4 linked regions of the Homo sapiens genome follow. The protein of the gene in region 3 interacts with the protein of the main gene of each other region in a pairwise test. Each region holds a gene or a part of one and is shown on either strand. Other genes may lie near its edges.

Region 1 (8,248 bases), on a different chromosome or scaffold from region 3:
GTGGCCCTGGGAACTTTGGAACGTGAGGGGGCTTGTGGGGTCTGGCTGATTGGGTGCTGGCTTTCAGCTTCAGTCCTGACACGAGAGGCTGAGCTCTGGAGAAATGTCAGGGTCCACCATCCCACCCATCTTGCCCCCACCTCCTCGGCTGCGCACACGTGCTCAGAGCAAGCATTTCTCTCACCAACTCAGGGATCCCTGCACACCAGGGAGCACCCAGCCTACACCTGCAGCCTGGCACAGTTGGGGACCGTTTAGTTGGTGCCAGCTGGAGGTGTTTGGAGGGAACCATCCGGTGATCAGGATAGAGGCACAGCTGGCCGAGGGCAGGTGGGCGCCTGTGGGTGCAGGAAGATGTCACATCTGCAGGCATTGTTTGGGGACGTCATTGTGTAACCAGCCCTGCAGGGCTGCAGAGGCATCCCACAAGTCTGTGTGCTCTCTAGGCTGCGTTTATTGCCCCACTCTAGACCACAGGCCTGGGCATATTTGTGTCCCCATCCCCAACCCTGTCACCTGAAGCAGCCTGCGAGCCCCGACAGGAAGGGACAAGAAGAGGCGAAGATGACAAACATTCACAGACAGCCCACGGCTGTTCTTTTGCTCTGACAGTGTATCTTAAGCTCCCTTGAGCGCCTTACTGAACAGATAGATCAGCTTCTTTTCAATCTCTTGTTTGCTCTTATAAAGGAAATTAGGTCATGCTGGAAACTATGCCATGATGCCCCTATGCTCACTCACCTGATGAAGTGTGGGAGGCTACCCCCCAGCAAACAGAAATGGGCACACAATCTGAAGCCTCCTTATCACACTGGAGACTTCCAGAGCAACTTCAGTAAGGTCTGTGAGGGGGAACGCTCTGTTGTTTGACATGGGCTTGTGGCTTTCAGCTAGGGGCACGCACTTCTCCACCAGCTCTTTTTTTATTTTTATTTATTTTTTATTTTTTTTTTGAGATGGAGTTTCGCTCTTGTTGCCCAGCATGGAGTGCAATGGCGTGGTCTCGACTCACTGCAACCTCCGCCTCCCGGGTTCCAGCGATTCTCTTGCCTCAGCCTCCCCAGTAGCTGGGATTACAGGCACCTGCCACCAGGCCCAGCTAATTTTTGTACTTTTAGTAGAGTTGGGGTTTCACCATGTTGGCCAGGGTGGTCTCAAACTCCTCTTAGGTGATCCTCCCGCCTCGGCCTCCCAAAGTGCTGGGATTATAGGCATGAGCCACCGTGCCTGGGCAGCTCTTTCCCTAATAAGAACACTGGTTCTGAGGCCAAGTAAGAGGCTAAATTAAGAAAGCAAAGATTTATCATAAGTTTGAGGCCCACGAGGAAAAAAGCCTCCATTCATCATCCAGAAACACAAGGAAACATCATTTGCCCCTCAGTGGACAGGTGATGTTTCTTACATACCCTATGACATAGCTGCCCTGGTCCCTCCCAAGCCCAATGTTTCATTGGCCAAGCTTCCAATTTGCTTTACAAGGTGTGAGGACAGAGAAGCATCCAGCCCATTCTCCTGTGGCCCTGCTCCATTTAGAGCAGACACGAGTGGATAGCTCAGCTGGTCACTAGCTCCTGGGCTGCCCCCACTCACAGAACAAGAGTGTGCGTTTCTCCTGAGAACTTCCTACTAAAGAAAACAGCCAGCCCAGGCATGGATTACAGGCTCACACCTGTAATCCCAGCACTTTGGGAGGCCAAGGCAGGTGGATCACTTGAGGTCAGGAGTTCAAGACCAGCCTGGCCAACGTGCATTTTTCTCTATAAAAAATACAAAAAGTAGGTGTGGTGGCACACACCTGTACTCCCAGCATCTCAGGAGGCTGAGGTGGGAGGATCACTTGAGCCCAGGAGGCAGAGGTTGCAGTGAGCCAAGATCGTGCCACTGCACTCCAGCCTGGGTGACAGAGTGAGACCTTGTCTCAAACAAAACAGAAAAACAGTCCAACTAGGAAGCTTGCTTCTCCCGGAAGCCTTGCTGCATGGGCTGACCAGGCACAGTGCTGGGCCATTCCACTGGGCTGGGCCAGGCTGGGGAGGTACCTTGATTTGGGGATGGCAGCTGGCCTTGTCCTTGACTCAGGGGCTGCTTTTCTGTAGACCAAGTGCACTTCACGGATTTCTCCAGAACTGGTAGAGACAAAAGTGAGAGAGTGGGAGATGCATTTGAAGCATGTTGGCTTTATTATTTGCAAAACTGAAGTCTGGCCCAAAAGAAGGTTGATCTTCTTTTAGGAGGTCTGGAACAGGACGTGGTCTCTTCTGTGGTGGAATGTTTTTGTTTTGGCTGAATGGTTGCGTCTTAGTGATTTGACTGAGAGCAAAATCAGCTTCCATTTTATCCCCGCTAAGTCACACTTTTTCCATAGAAGGGGAGTTGTGGGAAGCATAGCTTTAAGGGAAGGCAAAGCACACCTTGCTCTGAAACTCTTTGGTCACAACCATGTAAAAACATGTCTGAGGAAAAATCCTAGGCAGAAATACAGCAAAAGTCCACTTAGCCAAGGAGGCCATGGGTAGTTCTTTTCCTCCTTTCTTGTGTTCTTATTTTTCCAGATTTTTATTTTTATTTTATTTTTATTTTATTTTTTTTTGAGACAAAGTTTCACGTTTGTTGCCCAGGCTAGAGTGCAGTGGTGTGATCTCGGCTCACTGCAACCTCCACCTCCCGGGTTCAAGCGATTCTCCTACCTCAGCCTCCTAAGTAGCTGGGATTACAGGCATGCGCCATCATGCCTGGCTAATTTTTTGTATTCAGTAGAGATGCGGTTTCACCAGGTTGGCCAGGCTAGTCTTGAACTCCTGACCTCAAGTGATCCACCCACCTTGGCCTCCCAAAGTGCTGGGATTATAGGCATGAGCTACCGCGCCCGGCCCCTTTTCTAGATTTTTTTTTTTTTTTTTTGAGACGGAATCGCACTGTGTCACCCAGGCTGGAGTGCAGTGGCGCAATCTCAGCTCACTGCAAGCTCCGCCTCCTGGGTTCACGCCATTCTCCTGCCTCAGCCTCCCGAGTAGCTGGGACTACAGGCGCCTGCCACCACGCCCGGCTAATTTTTTGTATTTTTAGTAGAGACGGGGTTTCCCTGTGTTAGCCAGGATGATCTTGATCTCCTGACCTCGTGATCCGCCACCTCTTGTCCTTCTAACAAGAAGAACTCATACCCATACTACGTAAAGATAGCTATCGCATACACTTTTATCACCAGCCTCCTTCCCACAACAATATTTATATGTATAAATCAAGAAGCTATTATTTCAAACTGATGCTGAACAACAATCCCAAAGTGCTGGGATTACAGGCGTGAGCCACCATGCCTGGCCCCCTTTTCCAGATTTTTAATAGTGAGCATATATTACTTTTATGACTGGAAAAAGTATTAACACATTCCTACTCTATGTAATTGAAGGAATTAGTCAAGTATTGTATCACCCTAATAGTACTTTCATGTACACACTCTATGTTGCTTATTTTTATGGATTTCATATACTTTGTCTCCACGCATAGGAAAATTGAGTTGGTGAGGCTTGCAAAACTCCCCAACCCACACTGTTTAGTTTTAGCAGACTTATCACATGAGTGTTTTCATTTAAAGAACAATAACCAGCCGGGCGCGGTGGCTCATGCCTGTAATCCCAGCACTTTGGGAGGCCGAGGCGGGCAGATCACAAGGTCAGGAGATCGAGCCCATCCTGGCTAACATGGTGAAACCCCGTCTCTACTAAAAATACAAAAAAATTAGCCAGGTGTGGTGGTGGGTGCCTGTAGTCCCAGTTACTTGGGAGGCTGAGACAGGAGAATGGCGTCAACCAGGGAGGCAGAGCTTGCAGTGAGCCGAGATCACGCCACTGCACTGTAGCCTGGGCAACAGAGCAAGACTCCGTCTCACCAAAAAAAAAAAAAAAGAACAATAACGATGACTCTTTAGGGTTCATTAAACAGTCTAAGAAATACAAATATTTAGCTCCCCTCAGCCATCACTGCCTCAGGCCCATTCATGATCATGAATCCAGATCCATGAGCTCTGTGGCAGCGTCTTTGAAGGTGGAGCTTCTCTGGATCATTTGAGGGACTCTATTTTCCTTGCAGGTGTGGGAGCCACTTCAGGAGCTTCTGCCAACTTCCCTGGCACCTCGGGCAGCAGCACCCTGTCTCCCTTCCAGCACGCCCACAAAGGTGAGGAGGGTGCTCAGGTATCGATCACCTGGAGTTAGGTGGTACTCGGATGAAAGCTCAGAAGAGGAGAGGAAATGATCATGAGTGATGATTATGGTGCGCTTCCCCACCTGGCCTCACCTCCCTAATGTAATTGAATGACATGTTGCCCCCCGTGCAGGAAGTCATTATATCTGCAATCAGAGTTGATCCCTCTATGGGTGTCCTGGGACCGCTGGGAGGTGCTGGTGGTGAAGGCGGGGGCATAGCGGCAGGTGGACAGCACAGGCAGCTGCAAGCCCGGCCAGGAGGAGAGACCAGGCGTCCTGGGCTTTGGTTTGGCCGGGAGTTAACAGCAATTCTATCACTGGTTTTCATATAAACATGCTGACCATAGCACTTTAATATTAACTTGCAGAATGTACATTTCATTCTCCCTAACCAGGGAAGAAGGGATTGAGGAGGACCCCAAAGTTTAATATGTCTCTCAGAGTCAGCCCTCCAGCTGGCTTGGCCTTTCTCTCTCACTGGTTTAGTGCCAGCCCATTATTGAAGCATGTTTCGGGCCCAGGTCTCAGCGAGCCGTGAGGTACCCTCCAGAGCCCTCAGAGCACCCAGCTCGTCAGCTTCATCTCTGGGCCTCCCACGCGCTAACGCAGAGCAAAAGGCAGGACTGCTGGGCGAGGATATATGAATCTCATTTGCACAGGCCCCGGGGGGAGTAGCTCAAAACACGGAGAATATTAAAACACTTATGTCATCCAGACCTGGCATGCTAACGCTATTACAGGTATTCCCCAGATGATGCTGGGAGGCTGGTTTTCCTGCAGATGCACCCACAGGGGAGGCTCAGCGCCCACATGCGGGGTTCTCAGCTCTGGCACTACCTCCCCCGAGATGATTTGGGAGCTTCAGATGCTGGTCTCCTGTCTATTTGGGTGGTGGCAAATCTGGATCTTAGTTCAAGACAATCAGAGTCCTGTTTGGTTATTTTAGAGAATGAGAATGAGCTTCAGGGCATTTTATGCATCCAGGGTCGACATTAACCTGGGAACTGAGCAAAATCCCCCGGGGTGACTGAGGGACTGCCTGGTGGAGGCGGCAGTGCAGGTGGAATAGGTGGCCCAGCCGAGGCACCCCCTGTGCCCTGGGGCTCTTACAATGACACTTAGGTTGAAATTGCATGAGGTGCAAGATGGAGCCAAACCTGGAATCCAGAGCTGACTTTCGCATCCTGACTTTTGTTTGGAAATGCCCAAACTTGAATTGTGCTGCCTTCCAGCCACTCTTGTTCACTGGCCTTTCTTCCTCTCCACACCAAACCCTGCCCTCAGGTTGCCAAAGCAGTAGAAGCAAGAGCAAACTCCCTAGGAACAATCAGGTGACCCCAGAGAAGTCTGGAGAGGCCAGTCTGAGGGCAGCGAGCAGGGCTGTGGGCAGTCCTGGTCTGGCAGCCAAAACCAGCGCGGAGGATTTGGTTCTCAGTCTAAGCAAGCACCTCAGATTTCAGGGTTCCCTGAAAGCATCCCAGGGGCAGGGCCATTGCTTCCAGGGGCCGGAGTCCTGGAGGGAAGACCAGCAGGGATCCTGAGCTCTGGGTCATTCATGCCTTCTCTCCACCCACAGAACTCTCAGGCCAAGGACACCTGGCCACTGCCCTGATCATTGCAATGTCCACCATCTTCATCATGGCCATCGCCATCGTCCTCATCATCATGTTCTACATCCTGAAGACAAAGCCCTCTGCCCCAGGTGACGGCCCCCATGCGCCGGTGCCCTGCTTCCTGGACTCTCCGTCAACTCCCCCTGTCGGAGAGCCTGGCTGCTCACTCCCTCCTCTCTCCCCAGCCTGTTGCACCAGCCACCCGGGGAAGAGCGTGGAGGCCCAAGTGAGCAAGGACGAGGAGAAGAAAGAGGCCCCAGGTCTGTGAACCAGGGCTTCCACACACCATGTGCACGGTGCCCATCTCTGGGTGGAGGGCGTTCCCAGAAGCAGCCTCCTCGCTGCTTCTGCTCTCACATGCTGAACCATACTGTGCTTACCGTGGGGTGGTGCCACACAGACACCGGGCAGCTCTGCCCAACAGGAAGAGCAGGGTTGGGCTGAGCGCAGAGCCATGAGCCAATTCTAACTCCTATCTCCCCAACCTCCCCATTTCCCTGCAGACAACGTGGTGATGTTCTCCGAGAAGGATGAATTTGAGAAGCTGACAGCAACTCCAGCAAAGCCCACCAAGAGGTATGTGGAAGCCCCCAGCACCAAGCTGAAGCTGGGGTCCTGTGGATCCTGAGCAGGGAGGGGAACCAGGGTGCAGCCGAGTGAACTGACAGGCTAGCCTGGGACACTATGGGGACGTTCGGCGACAGACAGTCCCCACCACCTCTTTGCTGACTGGCAGGGGTCAGGTGGTGTGAGGAGCCTGTGGAAACAGCTGCCTGCTGCTCTCGGGTCAGGCCCCTGTCCCTGCATCCTGCCAAATTCCCTGGGCCTTCCTCCTTAACATCCGAATTCCTCATGCCCCTTCTCCAGACTGGGAGGGCAGAACATAAAGCCAAGGATGCATGCCTGTTGCGGCCAACACACCAGTACCACCCGTGCCGGTGCCAGTACTGCTGCCACCGTAATGCTGGTAACAACCGTGGTGATGACGGCTAACAGCATTTGGTGCCTACTGCCCACCAAGTGCTGGGCTAGGGCTGTGAACACATCCTCCCTCCACAGCCCAGGAGCAAGGTGCTTGTATCATCCCTGTTTATAGGATACCACACTGAGGTATGGAAGTTGTCACTCGCCCAAGGTCACACACTAGTGAACAGCAGGGCTGGGGTCCGAGTCCAGGCTCCCAAGGAGCCACATGGTGTAAAGAGGCCTCTGGAGGAGGAGATTTGGCAGGTGAAGCCTTTCCCGCGTTTACCACACATGAAGGTGTGGAACCAGCCCCTGCTCTAAAATCGAGGGTAGAGGGAAGTCAATATTTTATTCATCCAGTGGGATGGTCATTTGGACTTGGTCCTGCGTAGCTTCCAAAAATCAACCCCACAGCATCAGCTCCCAGCCAGGCAATGTGCTCGGACCCCCCTGCCAGGCCTCTGCCCGACAGCCACTGCAGGCTGCGCCTGGAAGGACACCCCCGCAACAGTGCCTCCCTTGGCAGATGGGGCACAGAGGCCACCAGAAGGTCACCAAACTGGTTACAGGAAGAGCAGAGGTTAAGCCCTCCTCTCCTGCCCCCACCCCATGATCTTCCTATGATTCACCTTGCAAAGCCATTCCAATCGATCCAGCATCTGTGTGGAGATCCTGTGTGCCAGATCCAAGCTGCTGCTCCCAGGACCAAGGGCAGGACCTGGTCACCCTGCATGGAACTCTTAAATAGGGCCTCCCTAGAGACTGAATTTGCTCCTCAGCCTCCAGCCCAGCCTTATCTCATTCTGTCTCAGCCTCTCCCTTCTGATATTCAGGCTTTTCTTATTCCCAGAAATCAAAAAGGCAGAGACGTGCCCCATGACTTGAGTTGCAGTTGAAGACAGGGAAAATTTGGAGGCCCTATTAGGAAAAAATATATACTGCTTTCATACACGAATATTAAATACAAATTGAACCCTGACACTTGTACGTTAAAAGACAGCAAGGCACTGAGCTTTTGTCCCTGCTGTTTGTCCTTAGGTCTCAGAGACAGGACCTGGGGTGCCACCTCACCTGCTCCACCTCACCTTCTCTCGAGTGGGGACAGGGATGGGTCCTACCACCTCCTTGTGAGGCCCTGAAGCCTGATGAGGAAGTGGGTCCCACTGGGGCTTCATGATGGTTCTCATTGTCTTTGTATTACCCTGTCTCTAGGGTTGTGTTTGCATATGGGCTTCACTGCTGTAACCTAGTTACTAACAAATATAATCCTTTTTTTAAGAAAAAAAGGTCTTCAGCCAAACCACAGGAAGCAAGCAGGATGCCTCTAAAAAAGAATATTGTTTTTCATATACTTGGAATGGTTTTAAGAGAGTTTAAGCTCCAACCCACATGTGCCTAGGGCAGACCCTGGGTTCTTTGTGGGCTGTGAGCCACAGGGCGGCATGAACCTGGGCTTGGTGGGTCCGA
Region 2 (4,965 bases), on a different chromosome or scaffold from region 3:
GCCCCAAGAAGTGTCACAGCCACCACCTATGCCAGAGGACAGACCTGAGGCTGGGGTAGGACCCTGAGCATTGGAACTTGGGCCTGTTGCCAGCCTGGACTGGTCCAATTAGGAAGACCCACAGAGACAGCAAAAGAGGACAAGAAATTGGAAGCAGGAAGAAGGGAGGGGAGAGAGAGAATCTTTATCTGCTTCCCATTTCTGTTGCTTTCCTCTTCCATCTCTCTTCCCCGCCTCTTCCCATCTTAGGGGGATTCAGCTGAGACACACAGCAGCCCAACCCGTGTGTTTTAGGCTGGCCAGGAGCACAGTCTCCTTTCTTGATCCCCCTGTCTCTCCTGTTCCTCACCCAAGAAAGCCCCTTTCTAGGACTATGAAATCAGTGTGTTTTCAACCCTGATTCCCCAGGTGCACCCCCTTGGCACACCCTGACGGTTGTGCATGCATCATTCACTGAGTGCTCCCCACCCACCCACACAACGCACACACTTGGCTCCCAGGCCAAACGTGCCGGCTCGCTCTGGGCAATCGGCCTGGCCAGGTTCTCCCCCTTTCCTGCTTTACATCATTTGCCCGCTCTGTACTTTGTGTTATTTGTGACTTCTCTTGTGCAAGCCACAGCGGTCTTGTCCCTATGAATCCCATCCTCTTCCCACCGGCTTCTCAGGGAACTCAAAGGCTGATGTGGAGACACAGAAACTGGGCAGTGTGACACCATATACAGCCACACCCCACTACACAGACAGTCTCAAGTGAAAGAGGGTGCCGCACACCCTTGAGTGCAAATATACTTGCACGCACACTCAGACTCCCTGTGTTCAGGGTCTGCAGACACCCGCCTTCCTTTCCTGCAACCTCCCCCTACTCACTTGCAGCCTGCCCTCGTTTTTTGTCACCCCACCCTGGAGTTGGAGACACTAAGAGCAGGGCTGGGTGCAAACACCTGGCAAAAAAATCACAGGATGGTCACGCAAACAGGAAATCACTCAAAAGATTCCAACGGGAGGCTCTGGGGGGGCTCCTTCCTTCCGCGGTTTCCTCCTTCATCGCCCAGGCCTCCTCCCTCTGTCCCCTGACAAAAAGTCACCGAGCCCAGTTCAAATCGATTGTTTTATTGACTGCATACAGACGCGTTTAGAAAAGGGCACGGGCTCCGGGGGGCTACTCCGTCCCAGGCCCGCGCTTGTGCTGCGCTTCGCGGAGAGGGCTGATCCCGAGGACTGAAACTCCCCCCACCCCAACCCCGACGCTTTCTTTCAAAATGGAAAAAAGAACCCCGCCCCGAGTCGCCGCGCCGCGCCCCTCCCCTTCCCTCCCTCCCCGCCCATCCGCCCCCCCGCCCGCCCCCCTACACTACACGGTCACACTTCACAGGACACAGACTTTTCTCCTACAGGGCACGCTTGTCAGGGACTACACGCCGGGCAAACACGATTCCCGCCGAAGCAGGGGCGGGTGGGGCGGGGCGACGCGAGGACCGAGACGCGAGGACGGAGGGGCTCGGCTCCATCCGGATCCCGTCGCACAGTCGCACAGTCACGAGCAGGCTTTGTGCGAACTAGGGCGCGAGCCCTCCAGAGAGCCGCGGCCCGGGAGGCCACAGTCAGCTTCCTCCGCCTCCGGCGCTTTCCAGCTAGGGTCTGGGTCGGGTGGAGCCGCGGGAGCGGCGCTGTTGGGCGCACAGACCTCCGGAAAGCCCAACACACGGACAACGAAATTGGCCCGCGACCAAGTCCACAGGCTCAGCCGCCAAGGGGCGCGCGGTCCTGCGGCGCTTTAAGTTAGGAGAGAGACGACAGAAAACGCATTCCCTCCCTACCCCCCGACACACACACTCGATTTTCCCAGAGGCTGGGAAGGGGGTGTTAGCACCAGACCCGAAATGTCGCTGTCTTTGAAAACAACGAAAACAGGAAAATCTGAGCGCGGAGCTGAAAGGCGCCCCAGGCACCGGGCTGGACTCCAACTGGCCAGAAGTGGGGTGGGGGTGGGAGGACAGAAGGATTTGGTTCCCTGCCGGCAGGAGGCTTTGGAACTAAAAACTAGGGGTTGCCACGAATCCCGGCTTCTGGGAGTAGGGATTGAAAGGGAGGAGGGGCCGGGCGCGGTGCCTCACGCCTGTAATCCCAGCACTTTGAGAGGCCGAGGCAGATGGATCACCTGAGGTCAAGAGATCCAGACCATCCTGGCCAACATGGTGAAACCCCGTCTCTACTAAAAATAGAAGAAATTAGCTGGTCGTGGTGGCGCGCGCCTGTAGTCCCAGCTACTAGGCAGGCTGAGGCAGGAGAATCGCTTGAACCCGGGAGGCGGAAGATGCAGTGAGCCGAGATCGCGCCACTGCACTCCAGCCTGGCGACAGACCAAGACTCCGTCAAAAAATAAATAAATAAATAAATAAAATTAAAAAATAAAAAAAAAGGAAAGAAAGAAAGGGAGGAGGAGGGGTCGAGGTGGGACCCCACAGCACTCCACTGGCCTTGGCTGGCCCCCGAAACCACCGCGTTACCGCGAGGTTTCCAAAGTCTTCGCTCGTTTCCTCTGGCTCCAGAGCCCACGGTGGGGCGGGCTGCGGGGTGGATTTCGCAGATAATCGCGACGGGAATGGAGGGACATAGATATCGCCCACCGTCTGCGGGTGGAGTCTTGCATGGGGTAAGATAAACACTGTGCTTGGCGGGGAAGGGGATTCAGCCCGCAGGGAGAATGGCAGCCGTGGGTAGCAGGGACTGGTGAAATCGGCCCACTCCCTAATAGAAGTCCCTGGTAGTCAAGGTTGGGGAGTAGTAAGGGGGAGGAGTAGGTGAAGGTTGGGGACGGGGGACATAAGTCCTGCCAGCCCTAGACTGCTGCTCCCAGGCACCCTAGGTGGAGGTCGGGAATGGGCGGGCCGGACGGGCGGAGGTTCAGCCTGCCGTCTGCCTGTAGTTGCCATTAATCTCCTGGGCGATGTTGACCGCCTCGGCGCCCAGGGGCAGCCGATCGCTGTACTCAGAGCCCGCCTCGAACTCCTCTTGGTTGGCCTTGGACTGGGACTCCACCAGTGAGCAGGCCGCCAGGCTCTCCTCTCTCTGCAGGTCCCCACTTGGGTCTCCCTGCTCCGCGTCTTCATCAAGGCCCTCCCCCTGCACGTCCTCTGGCTCCTCGCCGCCCGCCTCGCCGCCTGCCGGGTAGCTTTTCTCGGACTCGAGGTACGAAGCACGCGGGTCGAAGTCTGCGGCGATGCGCTTCTCCATAGGGTCAGGGGCCTGAGGCCGCAGGATCAGACGGTAGGGCTTGCCCGGGTGTTTAGCCAGCAGATGGCAGCAGGCGGCGCCCAGAAGGGGCACTGTGGCCAGCACCAGGAGGAATACGCTCACTGCCACTATGACCAGCAGCGATGGGAGCTCCTTCTTGGTGGAAAACACCACTTGCACGTGGCAGGCTTCGCCCGCCAGCGCCAGGCACACGGAGTAGTTGGTACCCGGCCGCAGGCCGCGGAACCAGTAGGCGTTGACGCCTTCCTCTACGCGGGACCACTGCACTGCCGCGCCGCCCCCCGCTGGACACAGATAGAGTAGGCGCAGGGGTCGCCGCCCGGGTCGCGGGGCTCCGCCAGCCCCGCCGGGCCCAGGGCCCCAGCGCGCAGCCAGCGGAGTCAGCTGCACCCGCGCCTCGCGCTCCGCCACATCCAGCGCGATGACGCCCAGCTCGAAGACGTGCGGCTTGAGCTCTGCGCTCTGGTTGAACGCGTGGTTAGAAACGTACCGAGAGGGGTCCCCGTTGCCACAGCGCTGCTCCTCCGCCGGGTCCGCGAGGATCTGGTCTTCGGCCTCCTCTCCCTCACTTGTGTCCTCCTCCGGCTCCGTCTCGGTCTCCCCGAGAATGCTGACCTTGGCCAGGCCTTGGCCTTTGATTTTGCCCTCGGGTTTGGAAGGCAGGACGCTGTTGCCCCGGCCCTTGGCTGTGGACTTGCGCTCAGAGGTCGGGGCCTGTCCGTCGGGTTCTCCCCCGGCGCCAGGCGCGTGTTTTGGGGGCCCGGTTGCTGCCACCGCCACGCGTATTGACGTAGAGTTGGCGCCCAGCTCATTGTGTGCACGGCAAGTGTAGACGCCCGCCTCCTTGGCACTCAGGAGGGGCACCAACAGGGAGCCATTTGCGAGGGCCAGGAAGCGCGGTGTGGCTGGGGGCGCCGGCCAAGCGGGTGCTGGAGTCGGCGTTTGGGCTTGGGTCTGCGTCAGCAAATCCCCATCTCCTTCTCCCTCTCCTTCCTCCGCCCCAACCCCGTCGTCCTCCCCGCTCAGAACCGGTGGCTCTAAGACTACGGTGCCACCGGGGATCTGAAGTTGCCATTGCAGGCGAGGCGTAGGGTGGCCGTCGGCGATGCAGTGTAACACGAACGCCAGTCCTGCGCGCAGTGGGGTGCCGGGTGCTTCAAGCGGTGGCTCGGCACTCAGATGCACGCTGGGCGGTGCACAGGGCAGGGCGGGCAGGCGGTACACCGGCACCCCCTGCAGCGCGGGAGGCGAGGCACAAGCAATGGAGTCGGGCTCGGGTAAGGACACCCGGGTGCTCGCGGCCCAGGCCTGCAGCCACACAAGGCCGCAGCCGCAGTGGAAGGGATTGTGATAGAGTTGCAAGTGTGACAGCGCGCTAAGCGCGTCGAAGGTGCCAGGCGCCAGCGTACGCAGCCGGTTGTTGTTGATGCGCAGGGAACGCAGGTCGGGTAGCGCACCGAGTGCGTCCCGGGGCAGAGAGCCCAGGCGGTTGTGGTTCATTTTGAGCAGCTGCAGCGCGCTCAGGTTGCGCAGGTCGCTCCACGGAAAGCTGGATATGAAGTTGTGGCTCAGATCGAGGTTCTTGAGCTGACTCAGCACGGCCAGTGCGCCTGGCTCCACGGTGCGCACCTCATTGTGCGCCAGCCACAGCGACGTGACCTGTGTGACGTCGGCGAAGGCCCCGCGCCGCAGCACAGTGATCTTGTTC
Region 3 (8,248 bases):
CCCCGTGACGTACAGACTTTTCCAGAGATGACTCTGCCACACAGAGTTTAGACAAAGGGGAAAGAGCAAATGAATATTCTATGGGAGAATTGCAGGAGTCACAATTAGGGTGGAAAACGCAGATAAAAGTGGGAGAAAAGAAGGAAGGTAGAAACTTGCTCTGAGCAAAAAGAAAAGCATAAATTGAAGAAACCTAGGCAAGGACATGACAGAAATGCCAGGGAGGCAGCCCAGCTGTGGGTTGGTTATTGGAAGGTGGTGATATGTCAGTGGGCAAGATATTCTGAATTTTCTGGCCACTAAAATGTTCTCCTTTTTCACTATGCATTCTCTTCTTCTCCCTTAGGCCTTTGGTATCAATGGCACATGATAATTTAGCTACTCCTGTCTTCCAAGATAAGGAAATAGTGATGAAAACTGCCATTTATTGGGCACTTACAATGCTCTGGGCACTATGTTAGGCATTTGATATTCATCTTCTCAACAGACCTGAGAGATGGGTTTTTCAGGTCTGCATTTCCTATTGCTGCTGAAACAAATTACCACGAACTTCGTGGCTTAAAATAACAGAAATGTATCTTACAGTTCTGGAGGGCAGAGGTCTAAAATGAGTCTCACCAGGCTAAAATCAGGGCTATGTTGCTTCTGAAGGATCTAGGGGGAGAAGCTGTTGTCTTGCCATTGTTTGTATAAAGAAAAGGGGCCGGGCATGGTGGTTCACGCCTGTAATCCCAGCACTTTGGGAGGCTGAGGTGGGCAGATCACCTGAGGTGAGGAGTTCGAGACCAGCCTGGCCAACATGGCAAAACCCCGTCTCTACTAAAAATACAAAAATTAGCCGAGCATGGTGGCGGGTGCCTGTAATCCCAGCTACTTGGGAGGCTGAGTCAGGAGAATCGCTTGAACCTGGGAGGTGGAGGTTGTGGTGAGCCATGATTGGGCCACTGCACTGGGCAACAGAGCAAAACTCCATCTCCAAAAAAAAAAAAAACAAAAAAAAAGGGAAGCTTGGAGAGATTAATTTGCCCAAGGCCACATTGCTAGAAAGTGCAGAAGCTGAGACTGAAACACAGGTCTGCCTGGCGCCAGATCATTTGCTAAACACTCTACAGTTTATAAAGTCTTGCTACATAGCAAATGCTTTCAGTAGAAATAGAAACACCTGGAGTGGAGAGAACAGACACATTTCCCTGCTCAGGAGACTCTACCTTTGCAAAGGTCAGAAACACTAGGCTTTTCTTCACTTACATCTCCAGCTTCTTGTCTCTTTAGCCCCTGGACACGATGCTCATATTTGCATATTTCCCCCAAACTCAGTGCTGTACCCACATGCTTTTCCAGAAAACCTGTCTGGATGTATCAAAAATCTACAGCTCATCCACCTACCCCCAAGACCAGAATTCTTAGAAGTAAAATGTGCAATGTGCAAGTCAATGAGAGGTTAGCATTTCATAGCTTCTACTTGGCCACTTGTATTTTAGACTAGGTTGGTGTCCAGAGGACCTAAAACATTTGCTGCATCCCCCAAATGGCCACAGATGTCAAGAGGGAGCCAAGTGTAGGCTTCCAGTGGCTCACAGCATAGTCTAATATCTGTAGTATAATGGTGACCACACTGGACTTGGCATCAGAATGCCAGAGTTCAAGTCCCAGCTTTGTGCTGTCATTATCATTACTGTGTAAAGTTGGACAATGTTTTCCTTAGTATCTACTTCCTCGTTTATAAAATTAGTAGACAATAACTTGTTAGATGGAGTTGCTGTGATCACTAAATGAGATAAAAGATACAAAAGTAATAGGTAAGCACTAAGATTGTTTACACATATAAGAAACTATTAATTATAACCAGAGGATATTTAGGAAGGGCAGGGTATTGGGTTATGATTTTGTTTTATATATCAGTGACCCCAGGGGGATAGAAGGGAGGTTTTAACAGTGACTGGTCTCACAGCCAAGGGCTCTTAGATTGAGGAGAAGCAGCCTTCCTTCCACCTTCCCTCTGTTCACTGCACAGGGGCTGCTCTGCTCGAGGGACCAGGAGGGCTTACACAAGATACCCATTTGTACTTCTTTTTATTTTCCATAGATGAATTCATGAGAGAAAAGGAAAAACACTTCCTAGTTGTGCTTGGGGTGCGGCCAGAGTCAGGTACCAAGCTGCACATCCACATGGGAGGGGCCCGCCTTGCATGCCATTAGCATTCCTGAACAGTTAACACTCGCCATTGGGCCTCATCCCTCTGCCTTTGGCCAGCTCTAAGGCCTCTGCCCCACACTGCAAGTTGATGCAGAGATGGCCCCTGAGGTTGTCCTTGTCCTGGGGCCACTTTCTCCCTGACACAGACATTACTCAGAGAGTATTCTGCTCTGCTGCCCTTTTGCATTCTTTCCTCCCATTGCCAACCTGTGAAGGGCATCCTGCACTTTATTGCAAGAGTCTCCAAAGTAGGAGGAGGCATTTGGGACCCTGTTTTATTTGTCTTTCTAGGTCCAAAGTGGCATAGTACCTGACATGTAGTAGGCGCACTCAATTGTTTTGCTAAATAAAAAGATAAAGTAAATAAATAATGTTTATTTGAATAAATGAGTGTGCAGATTAATAATTTGCCTAGAACTTTGTTGAAGAGCAAGTTAGAGAATATGGTGAAGTGGAACGAATGTGGGCTTTGGATAGACCTGGGTTTGAATCTTAGCTCTACCACTTACTAGTTTTGTGACCCCAAGAAGTTACTTAATCTTCTCGAGCTTTATCTTCAAATGAGTATAGTAATACTTAACTTCAAGGGTTACTATGAAAATTAAATGAGAATATATGTGAAGTTTTAATACAATATTAGTTACCCAATACTAATTTTGCTTATTTTTGTCTTATAAAGGAGACAGACTAGAGCTAATAGCCCAGTGGTTGGTGAAGGTACCTAAAACCAGTGGTTTATTATTATTATTTTTTTGATACAGAGCAACATTTTCAAAGGAAATAGGGAAATATGATTTCAGTAGGGAACTCTAATATATGAAATCAGATCAGAATGGTACTTCTCTGGCTGAAACGAGAGTAGGAATCCTGGGCTCACAGAGCATCTTCTCACCAGCTCTAAACCTCCTAAACACATAGCTAGCCCCAGAACGATTGGAAACTACTATTCTAGAGCTAAAGGAAAAGAAAGAAATAGGCAAATTACTGAGCTCAGAAGACAGTTACCCAAGAAGTAAGAGGACACTCAAAAGTGATGTTGAAAAACTGGTCACAACGTGTAAGCTGACCTTACAAAGTCTGTGTCAAAGACTTCCCCCTGCCCCTCATTCAATGGAAGATGTCTAGAAAAGTCCTGGAAAACTGAGACAAGTGAGTTTACTTTTATAATACATTAGCTGGATGGATCTTTAGGAAGAGCTGCTTTCCTGGCACACTTAGAGGAAAGGTGACATAATTTCTACAAAAGGAAAAGATCAGGCCTGGCTGATGTTTAGGGTTCTTTGAAGATTAATAAATGCCTGTGCATAGGGGTAGAGTAATGCACTTTTTTTTAGGTTAAAAAAGAAAAGCTTTGACACAGTTCCACACTAATGGATATTTAAAAAAAAAAAAAGACATTATGAATTTGTTGACCTTTCCATAGAGGATAGGCACGGAGAAAGAACAAAAGGGAAGGACAAATGGTGACTTCTCTATACACAGAATATAAACTGTGGTGTTCTCTAGGGCTTGGTAGTAGTTTTGCCTTTGTTAATAGCTTCTTGAGTTTTGTCTCTGCCTGCCTGATAAAGAAGTATTGTAATGAACACCTTGCGCTGGTTAATTTTGTATGTCAACTTGGCTGGGATATGGTGTTTGGTCAGTATCAGTCTAGATATTGCTGGGATATGGTGGGATTGGCTTGGATATGGTGTTTGGTCAGATATCAGTCTAGATATTGCTGTGAAGATATTCTTTAGATGTGATTAACGTTTAAATCAGTAGACTTTGAGTAAAGCAGTAAAGCAGATTACCCTCCATAACGTGGCTGGCCTCCTCCAATCAGCCGAAAACCTTAAGAGCAAAAACTGATGTTTCCTGAAGAAGCAGCATTTCTGCCCTAAGAGGACTGTAACAGAGAAACTCTTAAGTTTTCAGTATGCAGATTTTAGGTTTAAGTCTGCAACATCAGGCCAAGCGCGGTGGCTCACGCCTGTAATCCCAGCACTTTGGGATGCTGAGGTGGGCAGATCACCTGAGGTTGGTAGATCACCTGAGGTTGGTAGTTCGAGACCAGCCTGACCAACACGGAGAAACCTCGTCTCTACTAAAAATACAAAATTAGCTGGGGGTGGTGGCGCATGCCTGTAATCCCAGCTACTCAGGAGGCTGAGGCGGGAGAATCGCTTGAACGGGAGAGGCGGAGTTTGCCATGAGCCGAGATTGCGCCATTGCACTCGTCTCAAAAAAAAAAAAAAAAAAAAAAAAAAAAAAAAAAAAAGCCGGGCGTGGTGGCTCACGCCTGTAATCCCCGCACTCTGGGAGGCCGAGGCGGGTGGATCACGAGGTCAGGAGATGGAGACCATCCTGGCTAACACGGTGAAACCCCGACTCTACCAAAAATACAAAGTTAGCCGGGCGTGGTGGCAGGCGCCTGTAGTCCCAGCCACTTGGGAGGCTGAGGCAGGAGAATGGCGTGAACCCGGGAGGCCGAGCTTGCAGTGAGCCAAGATCAGGCCACTGAACTCCAGCCTGGGCGACAGAGCGAGACTCCGTCTCAAAAAAAAAAAAAAAAAAAAGACTGCAACATCAACTCTTCCCCAAATTTTCAGGTTGCCCACCTGCTGTATAGATTTCGGACTTGTCAGCCCCCACAATCACATCACATAGGTTAATTCCTTAGAATTAATATATATATATATATATATATATATATATATATATATATATATATCTCCCTCTCTCTCTCTCCCTCTCTCTCTCTCAACAGGGTCTTTGTGTGTCACCCAGGGAGTGCAGTGGCACAATCATATCTCACTGCAGCCTTGACTTCCTAGGCTCAAGTGATCCTCCTGCTTCAGCCTCCCAAGTAGCTAGGACCACAGGTGCATGCACAATGTCTGGCTAATTTTTAAATTTTTTGTAGAGAAGGGGTTTCATCATGTTGCCCAGGCTGGTCTTGAACTCCTGTCCTCAAGACTTGGCCTTCCAAAGTGTGGAGATTATAGGCGTGAGCCACCATACGTTGCCTCTCTCTCTCTTTATGTATCTCCTTTTGGTTCTATCTCTGAAAGAACCTTGAGTAACACACCATCCCAATTGGGATTGATGTATATTTTTGATAGAAGCACATATGATCATTTTCTGATGTCTCCTGATACCATTTTACCAATTCCCACTGCCAGCCCCTAACTTCTGGATCAGATGAATTAAACATTTTCTGTTTCCATTCCATACAGTGCTTCCATGGTGAACTTTCTCAAGCAGAGGTTCTCAAATGATCCTCCAAAACACAGATGTTCCATTTACTGGGACAACATGTTTTGATGCCAATATTGAATGATTCCAGTCATTTCCTAATTTGAGGAAAAATTACTATAAAAATTTGTGATTTTAAACATTTTCCTCTTACACATTTTTCTTAAATTGTGGATGCTACTACCACCTGTCTATGCTAAAATCTAGTTTTTGGTATGAATTTAGGCCAAAATGATCTACTTACTTATTTTAAATTTAGTAGACCAAAATTTTCTGGTATTCTACAAAGATAAACATGGCTTCCAAGTGCCAGCCACTTAGCCAATCTTGAGATCCACTGTCCTAAAACACAGCTCTGAATTTATATCTCCCCCCTGCTTAGAACCCTTCAAAGGTTCCCTGTAGCCTAAATTCAAAGGAGAGCCCTCGGTCATTCCCTCTGCACTTACAAGCCCAGCCACCAGCTCCTACTTACTTCCTATTGCCAGGTTCATCACTTGTCCCCCCACTCTCTGTTGCTGACCAGTTTCTTTGAATCCAGATTTGCTCCTGTTCCCTTCTGAAAGACCAGTCTATAGTATTTGGCCAGACCCAACTATTATATTTTCCATTCAGCCAGTGGAGGAGTGGTTGGACCACCTAAGAGATAAAGTACAAACTCCTCAGTGTGTATTCAAGGCAGCACCCATCCAGGTTCTAAATGGCCTGCCTGCCATTTTTCACTGCGTGCCCCACCCCCCCAACCCTTTGGTGTCCTGGTCATGCCACCATGCTGTGCTTAGGGTGTCCCTGTCTTTGGAATCCCTTCTCCCATTTCTGCCTATCGAACTCTTTACCACCTTCCGAAGCCCAGCTGAAAAACCTCTTCTCTCCTCAACTTCTCTTACCCAGAATTATCCTTCCTTCCCTATATCCCTCTCTCTGCCTATAGCAAATAGCTCTCCAGGGAAGCTGAAACCATTGTGGATATGTGTTTATGGCTTTTCTTCCATACTAGCCTCTGCCACAGCAATATAGTCTGGTACGTTGTTACGTCTTTTCTTCACCCAAGTTTGTTTAATAAGATATTCTGAAGCCACAAAAATTGGATTGCTGTGCATCAAAAAAGCCAATTTAACAAATAATTGCATTAAAAAGCAAAATTATAAACTTTTAAATTAATTGACGGGTGTCACACTTAGAAGTCAATGACTACACTTTTGGTAGTTTTTGTTTGTCTTAGAAGATATGTAATTTGAGAGACATTAAAGTGTCATTCATCCTAGGACAGTTATTGGCCAGGTGCCTGTTCACGGCATGATACATCAGTTCTGGCTGCAAACTTGGAGGCTTTGTACAGGTGAGAAATTTAAGGCTCACAGAGAGAAAGTGACTTGTTCACGATCATGATGTGTTATTAAAAGAGTTAAGATTCAAGTCCAGGTTTCCTAACTCTTAACCCAGCCTTCTATGGGGTTTGTCACTAATGATTATTCTTTTTAAGGTAGGGAGATCCACTTCCCTTTACGTCTTTTTAAATTAAGAGAAACTCTTGACCTCCCACCTGTGAGCCTACCCATGAGACTCACTACAAGATAAGCCAGAAAGGGAGCCACATAAACAAAGCTGGCAGGGAGAAAGCCTTCTATCCTTTTCCTTCATTCAAAGGCTTCCTCACCGTTTACCCTAACTTCTGAATGCCACAATTTGAGACTCACTCCTTCATTCCTGATTAAAATGCAAGCTCATATAAAAGAGGCACATTGAGTTTCATGAGCCATCCATGTCAATGCCTCATTTATCAGCTCCCTTCTCTTATTTAATTTTCAAAGGGCGAGGGAAGACACCATGAGAAGGAAAGAGACCCAAGGAGAGGGTAGAACCTAAAAAGACAAACCTCGTAACTTATGATTTGGGGGTTTGGGTCTGTCTCTCTGGCTATACTGACTTCTAATGATATGATGTGTCCTCTTTCCTGCCTTCTCTTTTAGCCCACAGTATGTAGAAACTGTTTTAGATATGTGGTCTTCTGAACCCTCCCCACGTTATTCTAAAACAATGCCTCCCTGACTATATTGGATTACTTATCTGGCAGGGGTGGGAAGGAAACCAATGGGATGAGTTACATTTAACAAGTGGAAAGCGGTGGAAGGCAGAGGGCAGAGCAGCAACTGCCCGCGTTAGAGATGGAACGCCCCAGACTGAAAGTACGCAACTCACCTCGAAATATTTTCCATGTAAAGGAATAGCCCCTGTGCACCCCGCCCTGTGGGAAAACTGCCCTGTGGCCTGGTATGATGATGATTTACTCAAATTGCTCAATACCCTGGGAGTTCCTTTGCTTTAAAGAGTGCAGATTTTTTTAAAGCTAGAATTATATTTCTTGTTTTTTCTTTATTGTGCTTTCACTCAGTTTGTTTTCCTATAAAAATTAATCATACCCGTAGTGTTGATGTTTCCAGACACATTGAAAGGTCTAAAAACAATTGCTCACTAAACAAACCAATTTGCAAAGCAGAAGAAAAAGAAGTGAGACTCGCCCAGTAAGCATGAGATCATTTTTTCAAGTTCATTACCTCTTTTCCTCACCCAAGTTTGTTGTACCAGAGAACACACAAACCACACCTCAAACTTTAGTTCATGCTAGAGAAATTTGAATTAACAAAGGAGAAAAAAAGAAAAGGAAAAATAGGAGAGGAAGAAACAAAGAAACACAATATGCGATTGCCTTAGCCCTCACCCTGAAACTCAGCACAAGAACAGACACTTCCTTGGCTCAGAGTAAAGATGGGTGTGGAGATTGTAGGTCACAACAATTGCTGGTCTGCTTCAACT
Region 4 (7,741 bases), on a different chromosome or scaffold from region 3:
CAGAGTGGGAGAGAGTGAGTGGAGATGGACCGCTGCCATAGTGATGGGGTAAGGAGAAGGCCTCTAGGGGTATACGATGACTAAGTGCAGATAAGGCTACTGATGTCAAAACAGGGGTATAGGTGGGACTCATAGCGGACAGACGGAGGTCAGATTGGAGGACTTGATGAAGGAACCAGGCTGGCAGGTTGTGGAGGTGATGGCAGTTATAGAGGTCAAGGGGAGAGTAGCTCAGGACTGTGAGCTTGCAGCCCCAGGGGGAATGCAGTGGCTCTGAGTGCAGATCCCAGGGGTGTTCTAGCAGCAGCAACAGCAGCTGAGGAGCTGGGCTCTGGCCCTCCACCCCGGTGCCCACCTCTGCACTGTTGATGCCGCAGCCCCTCTTGGCCCCTCATCCCCAGCTAGGCACCCCCAGAAAGAGCTCCGTGCAGACAGCAAAGCTCACACCCCCATCTGCAGGGCCCTTTGCAAGTCTTCAGCCTTCTAGGTAAAAATCTAAACACTTTTTGGAAAGTTTTATTTGAAAACTTGGGGACAGGACAGAGACAGCAGGATGGAGACTGTATTCTCCTGCTAGGGTTCTTAGGTCAAAAGCCAGGCTCGGGTCCCTCCCGTCTCTAAGTTCCAGGTCCACTCCAGTCTGTGGACTCCTGAGGAATATACCCACCCACCCACTGTCAGGCCCTTACCCCTCCCCCACCGCCCACTTCCTGTGCCTGAGGAGACACTGAGGCGTGGGGGTAGACTATGAGGGAGCGGGGGTGGGGAGGATCTGGTTAAACTCCAGAAGAAGGAAGTGAGAACCTGGGAGTTTGGGGGCTAAGAGGAACAGATAGAAAAAAGAAATAAGGAGGGGGCTACTGTCTTTGCCTCCTCCATCACGAAAGCTTTGCCCTGAGATGTCTCCCTTGAAGCTCAGATAGGAAGTCCGGGGTAGATCACATCCTGTGACTTGGCAATGGCGCCCGTCTTTGGGTGCTGGTTGGGAAACAGTCATGCCCCTGCTACGGGGGGCTGGGGCAGTGCACGCCCCGCTGTGCCAGGCCCTCCATCTCAGCTGGCTGCAGGCTGGCTGTTGGCATAGGCCTGATCCGGGAAGGAGGCCCGGGCCCTGCGGGTCTGGGCACATACTGAGGCATAGAGCTCCGGCTCGGGGCCCGAGGCCTGGGACTTTGGCTCAGAGTCCAGCACCACCTCCGAGTACTTGACGGGGGTTCCAGGACCGGGGATCCGACCCTGAGGAGGCCGCAGCTGCAGGCTGGTATAGCACATCACCTCCTCTGCAGCCTGGAGATGCAAGGCTGTTAGAAGTTCACTGGACCCTCGGAAAAGCCCGAAAAGCCCCCCACTTCCTTCCCTCCCCCTTTTCTCCAGCCACAGTTGACTCACCCTGGCAGGGCCTCCAAGAGTTGGATCCTGCTGGTCTGGCTCTGGGTCTTGAGACAGCCGTCCTGGGACGGGGAACAGGAATCTGGTCAGCAACTTGTCCTTCCTCCTGCACGCCCCCATCCCAGCCACCCAGGACCTGGCCTCTGTGCCCCTCCTCTCTGCCAGCTCCCTACCTGTCTGTAGATAATGCAGGTTCCCATACAGCGGGACCTCTTCCACAGACTCTCCAGAGCTGCAACGCAGAGTTTAGGGGATGAGTGGGGACTTCTCGGTAAGAGAGAACTCTCAGTCAACCCATCCCTGTTGTCCTTCACCCACCGTCCCTGCCCCGGATGGCTCCTGCTCCGGCCCCTGGTCCACTGGGACAAGTGTGCAGCCAGCGAGATGAGAAATAGCAGCGTCACAGCCCCTAAGAGGACCCACAGTCCCCAGGCCTGGGTTATGGAGGGGATTCCTGTGGATGTGAAAGGAAGGGGGGTGTAACAGCCCCGCCCCACCCCCAGGGCCCAGCAGGTGGGACCTGGGGCCACATGACCCCTCCCCCACCAGCCCCTGCCCTGCCCAGCTCACCCAGTGCGAGTAGATCCGTGCAGTTGTCGCCTCTGCTCATGGCTGCAGATGTGAGAGTCCACAAGCACACTGCTCTGAGCCGAGGGTCAGCCTGGTTCATGGCCTGACGGTTTCCACAGCACTTCTTACTCCCATCCCTCCTCAGGCCCGTACCCCGCAGCTCAGCATCCCCAATACTGGTGGTGGCAAAGTCTCTGGTTTCCGGGGAGGAAGGGGGAGGGGAGGGATGAAAAAAAGAACAAAGACCCCGCCCTGTGCCTGCACCTGCGCCACTCCTGCAGCTCCTGAGCTTCCCCCACCCTCGCTGCCCAGGCCCTTTGCCCCCCTTGAGAAGAGAAGCAGGCCTGTGGGTAATGTGCCACGGGCAGTTGAGTCCCTGAGGACTCTGAGGGCGGGGGGTGGGGGCAGAAGTGGTGTGAAGCAGGACTAACAAGGACAGGAACACCCCTTCTGCTCCAGGATGCCCACCTTCCTCCCTGACTCTGGTCCCAGAAGAAAGATGTATTCCTCAATGAGTATGGTATAAAGTGGAAGGGTCGGGGGAGCCTCCTGGTACCTCTGATCCCATCACACCCTAAGGCTGATCTGAGAGGATATGTGTTTAGATGATGCTTGTTATTGTTTCATTGGGGGCATTATAATTTGGGGGACACCCCCAAACCTCCCCTTTCAACCCACTTCATCCAAACTGTCTGTAAGAACTGTCACTCTCAATAATTAATTGCATTTTAAAACTCTTTGCTGTAGGACTGTCCTGGGAAACTGAGCCCTATCTTGCACATGTTCACTTCAGCGGGTGTAGTACCTGCCATACCTAGAGCTAACTCCATCACGTGCAAGGCTATTGATGTAGGAAGAGGGATTTTAAGTTGCAAATATAAACCTGAGACCAGAAGTCAGAGATGTGTTTTGTCTAGCCCATACAACATTTTTTAAAAGTTTAAAATCAGTGCAGTGGCATGCCAACAATAGGGATGGCAGAAGTCCTGCCCCTTGAGTTGCAGGCAATAAGGGGGTGCATTGTCTGTAGAGAATTTAAAAAATAAAAATCAGTCCTCTTATTATCACCATGTTCCAGAAATTCTGAAAAAAAAAATCAGTGATAAAATTATCCTCCCTGAAAAATATTTTATGGATCTAAGTTTTATATTTTTTTTGAGACAGGGTCTTACTTTGTCTCCCAGGTTGGAGTGCAGTAACACAATCTCAGCTCACTGCAGCCTTGACGATCTCCCGGGCTCAAGTGATCCTCCCATCTCAGCCACCTAAGCAGCTAGGACTACAGGCATGTGCCACCACACCCAGCTAATCTAGTTCATTTTTTGTAGAGATAGGTCTCCCTGTGTTGCCAGGCTGGTCTCAACTCCTGACCTCAAGCAACCTGCCCACCTCGGTCTCCCAAAGTGCTGGAATTACAGGCATGAGCCACTGCGCCCAGCCCAGATCTAACTTTTAAATTGCTGTAGTGGACCAGGTGCAGTGGCTCATTCCTGTAATACCAGCACTTTGGAGGCCAAGGCAGCAGGAGGATTGCTTGAGGCCAGGAGTTCAAAACCAGTCTGAGCAATATAGTGAGACCCTCCATCTCTACCAAAAAACAAACAAAAACAGTAGACAGGCCTGATGACACAAGCGTGTAGTCCTAGCTACTTGGGAGACTGAGGTGGGAGGATCACTTGAGCCCAGGAGTTGGAGGCTGCAGGGAGCTATGATTATGCCACTGCACTCCAGCCTGGGCGACAGACGGAGAGACCCTGTCTCTACAGTAGATGCACAAATACCATTGTCTTACAACTGCCTACAGTATTCAGTATGGTAACATGCTGTAAGCATTGGGGCCTAGGAGCACCAGGCTATACCATGTAGCCTAGATGGGTAATAGGCTACACCATCTAGGTTTGTGAAAATACACTCTATGATGTTTGCACAATGACAAAATTGCCTAGTGACTCATTTCTCAGAACATATCCCTGTTGTTAAGCAATGCATGGCTGTTTTTATGCTGACATGATTATATTTACAAAGTTCAAGGAAAGAAAATATTCACTGAGTTTATTTCTTGGCCCTTATTATTCATTTTATAATTGCCATTGAGAATAATTTTGTCATATAAAGAATGTTTAAATTTGTTTTAATTTTATTTATTTATTTATCTGAGATGGAGTCTCCCTCTGTCGCTCAGACCAGACCGCAGTGGCACAATCTCGGCTCACTTGCCCAGGCTGGAGAGAAGTGGCGTGCCTGGCCATAAAGCATTTTTTTAAATGATCCACTTGAAAAATAAAACTTTGTTCCAGGCATGGTGGCTCATGCCTGCAATTCCAGCACGTTGGGAGGGTGAGGCAAGAGGATCGCTTGAGCCCAGGAGTTCAAGAACAGCTTGGGCAACATGGCAAAACCCCGTCTTTACCAAAAATACAAAAAATTAGCCAGGTGTGATGGTGCACGCCTGTGGTCCCAGCTACTCGAGAGGCTGAGGTGGGAGGATTGCTTGAGCCTAGGAGGTAGAGGTTTCAGTGAGCCAAGATCAAGCCTCTGCACTCCAGCCTGGGCAACAGAGTGAGACCCTGCCCCCCACCCCCAAAAAAAGAAAGAAAACAAGAAAAATTTGGGTCTGGGCATGGTGGCTCACGCCTGTAATCCCAGCACTTTGGGATGCTGAGGTGGGTGGATCACCTGAGGTCAGGAGTTTGAGAGCAGCCTGGTCAACATGGTGAAACCTCGTCTCTACTAAAAATACAAAAATTAGCCGGGCATGGTGGCAGGTACCTGTAATCCCAGCTACTCTGGAGGCTGAGGCACAAGAATTGCTTAAACCCAGGAGGTGGAGGCTGCAGTGAGCCAAGATCACTCCACTGCACTGCAGCCTGGGCGACAGAGCAAGACTCCATCTCAAAAAAAAAAAAAAAAAGAAAGAAAGAAAAATTTGGGCCAGGTGTGATGGCTCACACCTGTAATCACAGCACTTTGAGAGGCTGAGGTGGGAGGATAGCTTGGGCCCAAGAGTTTGAGACCAGCCTAACCAACATAGTGAGATTCCCATCTCTGCAAAAAATTAAAAAATTAGCGAGGCATGGGGGCATGTGTGCCTGTAGTCACAGCTACTTAAGAGGCTGAAGTGGGAAGATTGCTTGAGCCTGGGAGATAGAGGCAGCAGTAAGCCATGATTGTGCCACTGCACCACTCCAGCCTGGGCAACAGAGTGAGAGCTTGTCTCAAAAAAAAAAAAAAAAAAAGACAGAAAAGAAAGAAAAATGTTTTTTAAATGATCCGGAACAGGCAAGGTGGCTCACACTTGTAATCCCAGTACTTTGGGAGGCTGAGGCAGGCAGATTCCTTGAGGCCAGAAGTTCAAGACCAGCCTGGGCAATACCCTGGTCTCTACAAAAAACAAACAAACAAACAAACAAAAAACAACAACAAAAAAACACACAAATTAGCTGGGCATGGTGGTGTGCACCTGCAGTCCCAGGTACTCAGGAGGCTGATCCAAGAAATTTGGGGCTGCAGTGAGCCATGGTCTCACCACTGCACTCCTGACTGGGCAGCAGAGGGAGACCCTGTCTCTCTCTCTCTCTCTCACACACACACACACACACACACACACACACACACACACACAAAGACCACTTGGTGTCAAATATGCTAAGTATGCCACTGATTCCTTGTCAACAGTTAAAAATTGGGAGATTTCAAATTTTTAAAATTCTAATTTGTTGATTCCTTCAAAAAAAGATCTGGCAATAGTGCCCTGAGTTCTCTAAAGGCAATAATCAGTTGGGGACCACTTATCATTATTATATCTGGCCTGAACCCCTTATTTACACCGACTGTGCCAACTGGCTTAGATTCAAGATTTCTATTACCCTGCTTTGCGTACCCAGGCTGTCACTGGGTCATCAGCTAGACCACTGGTCCCCAGCCGTTTTGGCACCAGGGACAGGTTTTGTGGGAGACAATTTTTCCATGCACAGGAGTATGGGAGGAGGGGATGGTTTTGGGATAAAACTGTTCCACCTCAGATCATCAGGTATTGTGGTTTTTTTGTTCTGTTTTGTTTTTTTGACAGGGTCTCGCTCTGTCACCCAGGCTGGAGTGCAGTGGTGCAATCTTGGCTCACTGCAACCTCGCCTCCTGGGTTCAAGCAATTCTTATGCCTCAGCCTCCCAAGTAGCTAGGATTACAGGCATGCGCCACCATGCGCAGCTAATTTTTGTATTTTTATTAGAGACTTTTTTTTTTTTTTAACCATATTGTCCAGGCTGGTCTTGAACTCCTGGCCTCAAGAGATCCACCCACCTTGGCTTCCCAAAGTGCTGGGATTACAGGCATCAGCCACTGCACCTGGCCTAGATTTTCATAAGGAGCCCACAACATCACGTGCATGCACAATTCACAATAGGGTTCGTGGCCCTATGAGAATCTAACACTGCACTGATCTGACAGGAGACAGAGCTCAGGCGGTAATGCCAGGATGGAGAGTGGCTGTATATACAGATGAAGCTTCCCTCGCTACTCCGCCGCTCACCCTTGCTCCTCCGCTGCTCACCTCCTGCTGTGCGGCCCAGTTCCTAACAGGCCATGGACCAATAGTGTTGGGGACCCTTGAACTACACTATGATAACTCCCCTTGGTGAGGGTTTCTCCCTGTCCTGCCCTTCCTCCTCCTTTCAGGAAAAACAAGAAGACACACCCATATTTCATTTATTTATTTATTTATTTATTTATTTATTTATTTATTTAGAGATGGAGTCTTGCTCTGACACTGAGGCTGGAGTGCAGTGGCGCGATCTCTGTTCACTGCAACCTCCGCCTCCCAGGTTGAAGCTATTCTTATGCCTCGGCCTCCTGAATAGCTGGGATTACAGGTGCTGGCCACCACACCTGGTTAATTTTTGTTTTTGTTTTGTTTTTCTGAGGCGGTGTCTCACTCGTTTGCCCAGGCTGGAGTGCAGTGGCACGATTTCGGCTTACTGCAACCTCCACCTCCCAGGTTCCCGTGATTCTCCTGTCTCAGCCTCCCAAATAGCTGGGACTGCAGGCGCCCGCCACCACACCCGGCTAATTTTTCTATTTTTAATAGAGACGAGATTTAGCCATGTTGGCCAGGCTGGTCTCAAACTCTTGACCTCAGGTGATCCTCCTGCCTCGGCCTCCCAAAGTGCTGGGATTAGAGGCATAAGCCACCGATCTTGGCTTCATTCATTTATTTAACACACATGATGTACTGATTGCCTGTTTGTATGCCAGGCTCTGGAGATAAAAATGTGATGAATGGAAATGGTTTCATGTCAGGGAGCTCTTGATCTAACTAGACAGATGACCCAGTGTATCCCAATTAAGAGACCATGGAAGGCTCTGTGGAACAGAAGGAATACCTGCCTGCCTGGTGAAGTCATGGAAGACAAGGATGGGGAAAGGCTGTTCGACAGAAGGTATAGAGACAGGCAAAAAACTGGTGAAATCACCACCCTGCCTCTTACCTGATTAGTAGCATACTTAACCTTGCTGAATTGCAGTTGCCTCATTCTTTGAAAGAGCTTAACTATATTACCCTTTTGGGTCATTTTAACCATTCATTAATTTCATTCAACAACGATTCATTGAGTGCCTGCTATCGCCAGGCGCCACGTGCTGTGCTAGGCTCTGGGAGTAAAATGGTAAAGAAAAAAGAGAGGTGGCTCCTGCCCTTGTGGAATTTAGGACCAGCCTAGCTCAAGGGTCTCCAACACCCGGCCACAGGCCAGCACCAGCCTGTGGCCTGTTAGGCTCCGGGCCACAT

The links.
Region 1: the proteins of UPK1B (region 3) and EDAR interact in binary tests that used the Homo sapiens proteins (3 or more experiments, as listed by UniProt).
Region 2: the proteins of UPK1B (region 3) and ISLR2 interact in binary tests that used the Homo sapiens proteins (3 or more experiments, as listed by UniProt).
Region 4: the proteins of UPK1B (region 3) and SIT1 interact in binary tests that used the Homo sapiens proteins (3 or more experiments, as listed by UniProt).

What each region holds. Positions count from the first base shown.
Region 1 is NC_000002.12:108,908,603-108,916,850, reverse strand, and holds part of EDAR (tumor necrosis factor receptor superfamily member EDAR precursor), read left to right. Parts: intron 1-4,086; coding exon 4,087-4,173; intron 4,174-5,778; coding exon 5,779-5,904; coding exon of another isoform or gene 5,905-6,000; coding exon 6,001-6,075; intron 6,076-6,318; coding exon 6,319-6,391; intron 6,392-8,248. UniProt on the Homo sapiens protein: Receptor for EDA isoform A1, but not for EDA isoform A2. Mediates the activation of NF-kappa-B and JNK. May promote caspase-independent cell death.
Region 2 is NC_000015.10:74,132,934-74,137,898, reverse strand, and holds the end of ISLR2 (immunoglobulin superfamily containing leucine-rich repeat protein 2 precursor), read right to left. Parts: coding exon 2,907-4,965; 3' UTR 1,097-2,906; downstream 1-1,096. UniProt on the Homo sapiens protein: Required for axon extension during neural development.
Region 3 is NC_000003.12:119,176,015-119,184,262, reverse strand, and holds part of UPK1B (uroplakin-1b), read right to left. Parts: intron 1-8,248. UniProt on the Homo sapiens protein: Component of the asymmetric unit membrane (AUM); a highly specialized biomembrane elaborated by terminally differentiated urothelial cells.
Region 4 is NC_000009.12:35,648,795-35,656,535, forward strand, and holds SIT1 (signaling threshold-regulating transmembrane adapter 1 precursor), read right to left. Parts: upstream 2,138-7,741; 5' UTR 2,060-2,137; coding exon 1,960-2,059; intron 1,844-1,959; coding exon 1,708-1,843; intron 1,622-1,707; coding exon 1,563-1,621; intron 1,452-1,562; coding exon 1,390-1,451; intron 1,288-1,389; coding exon 1,054-1,287; 3' UTR 501-1,053; downstream 1-500. UniProt on the Homo sapiens protein: Negatively regulates TCR (T-cell antigen receptor)-mediated signaling in T-cells. Involved in positive selection of T-cells.